Linked DNA regions of Homo sapiens: region 1 is linked to region 2. Evidence: fine-mapped expression QTL. A gene starts in region 2. The other region holds a variant in brackets. All regions are shown on one strand. Distances are between the middles of the regions.

What was found. PIP is the estimated chance that this variant, and not a neighbour inherited with it, causes the effect.
Region 1: its variant is fine-mapped to the expression of CSNK1G1 in whole blood (INTERVAL, PIP 0.90).

Annotation. Positions count from the first base shown.
Region 1 is chr15:64,240,823-64,243,606 of GRCh38, reverse strand. The region is part of intron 4 of CSNK1G1 (casein kinase 1 gamma 1); the gene reads left to right. Among named protein-coding and RNA genes, the nearest start is that of PPIB, 79 kb to the right of the region's middle. The variant T/A (reference allele first, on the strand shown) is at 1,683.
Region 2 is chr15:64,355,029-64,357,812 of GRCh38, reverse strand. It overlaps CSNK1G1 (casein kinase 1 gamma 1), which reads left to right and starts at 1,640. Exons shown (of 12, transcript NM_022048.5): 1 at 1,640-1,825. RefSeq lists silencers at 1,705-1,754, 1,865-1,924, 2,315-2,374.

The sequences.
Region 1 (2,784 bases), 110 kb after region 2:
ATTCGACTTCCTCCTTTTCAATTTGGATGCCCTTTATGTCTTTTTCTTGCCTGTTTGCTCTGGATAGTACTTCTAGTACTATGTTGAATTAGAGTGGTGAGAGACGGCATCCTGTCTTGTTCCAATTTTTTGAGGAGAAATTCAGCTTTTCCCTGTTTAAAATGATGTTAGCTGTATTTGTCCTATATGACCTTTGTTACATTGAGGTATGTTCCTTCTGTACCTAGTTTGTTGAGGGTTTTTTTTGTTTTGTTTTGTTTTGTTTTTCTTTGAGATGGAGTCTCGCTCTGTCTCCCAAGCTAGAGTGCAGTGGCGCAATCTTGGCTCACTGCAACCTCTGCCTCCCTGGTTCAAGCGATTCTCCTGCCTCAGCCTTCCGAGTAGCTGGGATTACAGGTTCACGCCACCACACCTAGCTAATTTTTGTATTTTTAGTAGAGACAGGGTATCACCATGTTGGCCAGGATAGTCTCGATCTCTTGACCTCATGATCCGCCCTCCTCAAAGCCTCCCAAAGTGCTTGGATTACAGGCGAGAGCCACCGCGCCCAGCCGAGGATTTTTTTTTAATCATGAAGGGATGTTGAATTTTATCAAATGCCTTTTCTGTGTCTATTGAGATGATCATACGGTTTTGTCCATTCTATTCATGAGATATATCTCATATATTAATTTATGTATGTTGAATCATTCTTGCATCCCTGGAATAAATCCCACTTGATCATGGTGAATTATCTTTTTTATACATTGTTGGATTTGGTTTGCTAGTATTTTGTTAAGAATTTTTGCATCTATGTTCATGAGGAATATTGCTATGTAGTTTTCTTTTGTTGTTGTGTCCTGGTCTGGTTTTGGCATCAGGGTAATCCTGGACTCAGAATGAGTTTGGAAGAATTTTCTCCTCTTCACTTTTCTAATGTTTTAGAAGAATTTATATTAGTTATTGATATAAATCTGGTTGAATTCAGTAGTGAAGCCGTATTAGGCCATTCTTGCATTGCTATGAGGAAATACCTGAGACTGTATAAATTATAAAGAAAAGAGGTTTAATTGGCTCATGGTTCTGCAGGCTGCACAGGAAGTGTGGCACCAGGCATCTGCTTGGCTTCTGATGAGGCTTCAGAAAGCTTACAGTCATAGCAGAAGGCAAAGTGGGGACTGGTACATCACAATACAAAAGTAGGAAGAAGAGTGACTGGGAGTCGGGGGAAAGTGGGGGAAAAAATGACCAGATCTAATGAGAAGTCACTTACCATGAAGACAGCACCGCCATGATTCAAACACCTCCCACCAAGCCCCACCTCCAGCATTGGAGATTACAATTCCACATGAAATTTGAGCAGGGACAAATATTTGAACTATATCAGAAGCCATCAGGTTCTGGCCTTTCCTTTGATGGAATAAGTTACTGCTTCAGTCTTATCACTCATAATTAGTTCAGGTTGTGTTTTTCATGGTTCAGTTTTGGTTGGTGGTATATGTCCAGGAATTTATCCATTTCCATTAGGTTTTTCAGTTTGTTAGCATATAGTTGTTCATAGTAGTCTCTAATGATTCTTTGTATTTCTGTGGTATCAGTTGTAATGTCTCCTTTTTCGTTTCTGATTTTATTTATTTGAGTCTTCTCATTTTTTTCTTGGTTAGTCTAGCTAATGGTTTGTTGGTTTTGTCTATCTTTTTTTT[T/A]AAAAAAACAACTTTTTGTTTCATTGATCTTTTGCAACTTTTGGTCTTAATTTTGTTGATTTCTGCTCTTTATTATTTCTCTCCTTCTACTGAATTTAGACTTGTTTTTTTTTTCTTTTCTAGTTTCTTGATATGCATCATTAGGTTGTTTATTTGAAATCTCTACTTTTTTGATGTGTTTATTGCTGTACACCATCTTGATTTCTTTATTGACACTATAGTTATTCAGGAGCATGTTGTTGAATTTCCATGTATTTATACAGTTTCTAAAGTTCCTCTTGTTATTGATCTCTGGTTTTATTTCCTTATGGTCAGAAAAGATATTTGTTATACCATTTATTTTAAATTTTTTGAAATTTGTTTTGAGGCCTAACACATGGCCTGTCCTGGATAATATTCCATATGCTGATGAAAAGTATATACTCTGAAGCTGTTGGATGAAATGTTTTGTAAATGTCTGTTAGGTCTATTTGGTCTAAAGTGATGTTTAAATCCAATGGGATGTTGAAGCCCCCAACAATTATCGTACTGGAATCTATCTTTCCCATTAGATCCAATAATATTTTATCTTTCTGAGTGCTCTGACATTGAGCACACATATATTTACAATTGGTTATATCCTATTGCTGGATTGTTCTCTTTAACATTGTATAATTACCTTCTTTGTTGCTTTTTACAGCTTTGACTTAAGATCTTTTGATATATCTACTCCTCCTTGCTTTTGGTTTCCATTTGTGTAGAATATCTTTTTCCATCCCTTCATTTTTAGTCTGTATATATCTTTATAGGTGAAGTGAGTTTCTTGTAGGCAGTATATAGTTGGGTCATCGTTTTTTATCAGTTCATCCAGTCTGCATCTTGTAAGTGGGAGAATATAATCGGTTTATATTCAAGGCTATTTTTCACAGGTGAGGAATTACTCCTCTCATTTTGTTAATCTTTTTCTGGTTGCTTTATATATTCTTTATTCCTCTCTTACTGTTAATCATCGCAACTTGGTGGTTTTCTGTAGTGATACGGTTTGATTCTTTTTCTTTTTCTCTTTCTCCTTTGTGTATCTGCTTTATCAGTGAGTTTTATAGATTTACGTATTTTTATGATG
Region 2 (2,784 bases):
CGAGTATTACTTTGTTAACTTTTACCCCAACCATTCATTTTCCCAATATTTTCAAACCCCAAATCACCCAGACACAATAAATGAGGTCTCTTTTCTTATCCATAGTGTCGGTATGAAAGTTTATTTTGAAGGTTTTTTTTTTTTTTTTTAGACGGAGTCTAGCTCTGTCTCCATGCTGCAGGGCAGTGGCGCGGTCTCGGCTCACTGCAACCTCCGCCTCCCGGGTTCCCGCGATTCTCCTGCCTCAGTCTCCCGAGTAGCTGGGACTACAGGCACACGCCACCACGCCCAGCTAATTTTTGTTTGTTTGTTTATTTATTTATTATTATTTTTGAGACGGAGTCTCGCTCTGTCATCAGGCTGGAGTGCCATTGGAGTGCAATGGCACGATCTCGGCTCACTGCAATCTCCGCCTCCCGGGTTCAAGCAATTCCCCTGCTTCAGCCTCCCGTGTAACTGGGACTACAGGCACGTGCCACCACCCCCAGCCAATTTTTTGTATTTTAGTAGAGACGGGGTTTCACCATGTTGGCCAGGATGGTCTCCATCTCCTGACCTCGTGATCTGCCCGCCTCGGCCTCCCAAAGTGCTTACAGGAGGACTACAGGCGCGAGCCACCGCGCCCGGCCAATTTTTGTATTTTTAGTAGAGACGGAGTTTCACCATGTTGGCCAGGATGGTCTCCATCTCCTGACCTCGTGATCCGCCAGTCTCGGCTTCCCAAAGTGTTGGGATTACAGGTGTGAGCCACCGCACCCGGCATATTTTGAGTTTTGAGTGGAGGATTAGACAGTCTTCTTCCTTCCCAAATTTGATTATGGGCTCCCTTTAGCCTTTTTCTTTGTTTTCTGTCTTTTTTCCACCACCACCCCGCCCCCGAGGCGCAGTCTCAAGAGGTCCTGAGAACATGTGCCCTGCTCTCTGTTTTAAGGATTAAAATAACTGTCGAGTTACATTGAATCTTTTTTGCCTATTCCATTTGGCTAGGTTAATTCCAGACCTTACACAAACATGTGCAGCTCTTACAAAATGTAGGTGAAGACAACATTTTTCTAACCATTCGGCTTCATGGGCTGTCACAGGAGAACTAAGTGCATGAAAAACCTTTCACAACATTGAAAGAAATTTTAAAAATCTGGTTGAAACACAATTAAAAATCCACAAGAGGGAGATGCTTGCTAAACCGTCAGAAAATAATTCCCTCGAGGGACCTGAGAGAGGAGCCTGGAGCCTTAGGAACAGCCACTGGGTCAGCCACGGGATTAAGGGTGGGAGGGAGCAGGAGTATATAGAGACGGGGGCTTGGTGGAGGAGTACAGTTGAAGGGAAAAGCGGGATGGGTTTCGTGCCTCTGGCAGCGAAGCGTGTACTTGGTCTAAGATCTTGAGCAGAAGGTAAGAGCGTGTTGCCAAAGCAGAGCTCAGTGCTCCCGATATATCTTCTGGTAGTCCCAGAAGAAATGGGGGTGGGTTGCTTTGAAGGCACTTCCGCTTAGCAACCCCACGCGGTTGCTAAGGAGGGGGCAGCCGTGGGGATAACCCGGAAGTGATGGTGTCAGTTTAACGCTGCCTGCCCAAAGTTTGTCCTATTAGGCCCGCCAGGGTACTCTGCGACTCCGGGACGAGGGCGGGGCCGCGCTAGTGGTTCCGGTTCGGCTCCAGCCGCCCCTCGGCTCCTCGCCTTCCCCCTCCCGTCCGCCTTCTCCCCTCCCTCCCGCTCCTGGGAAAGAGAGAAACCACCGCTGCGGGTGGGTAGAGAAGCACTTGGCGCCTCGGGGAGGGGACCGCGCCCGCCTCATTTGCGCCTTGCAGCACTGCTGGACCAGGTATCTGCCCGGCTTCGTCGGGGTTCTGTAGGCTGAAGTCTGAGGGGGTGTGTGTGTGTCTGAGGGGGTTGGTGGGGGGCCCTTTCCTGGGCGTGGGTGGGGGACGCCGTGATCCCGGGTGGGGCGCAGGCTGGCGTTTGTGTCTGTGGAGGGTTGCGGGGGCGGAATGGAGGGGCTGAGGGACACAGCGGGTGGAGAGTTTCGGTTAGCGGGGTAGAGGTAGGCGGAGGAGGCGCCCCTTCCGAGAAACTGACTCTAGCCGGTGTGGACCGGGAGTTTGCCACCTGGAGGGCTTACTCTGAAAGGGGGAGCATCCCCCGGGAGCCAAAAGGAGGGCACAGATCTCGTCAGGGTGACTGGGGCTATCCCGTGCTTCCATTGCCCTCTTTCCCTACCCACCCCGCTGGGACAGAGCTGGACTTCGAAGGTTGTGGGGGTTCTGAGTCGACTGGGTACCGCGGGGAGCCGCCCTTGGCGGAGCTTAGGGCACAAGAGTGGGTAATGAGACTTTCCTCTACCCAACTTCCGTACGCTTCCCCCACTTCTTCCTTTACTGTTTCCTCGCCCCCACGTCCTACAGGAGCAATGTCCCCCAAGTGGGCAGGCATCACAATGTAAAAGAGAGTGGAACTGGGTTTGTTGCCCCTAAATGACACTTAAGATGTTTGGAAAGTGCCTGAATGACATATTCAACCAAGTCTCCCAGCTCGATATTAATTCCGGTATAAATTACCTTAGAAAAGTGGAATTCTGAAAAGCATTTAACAATAGGCTAGTCCAGGTGTAGTCTTGTGTAGTAGATGTACGTGTTTATTTAAAAAGAATGGACTGGGGAAACCATATAGATGTATCACAGGTCTAGGCAAGACATGTTGAGGCAAGGCTTTTGCAGCCTCTTTCTTACCTGCCAGTAAACCTGTCCTAATTTAAATGAAGTAGAAAGATCCTCTTCATTTTTG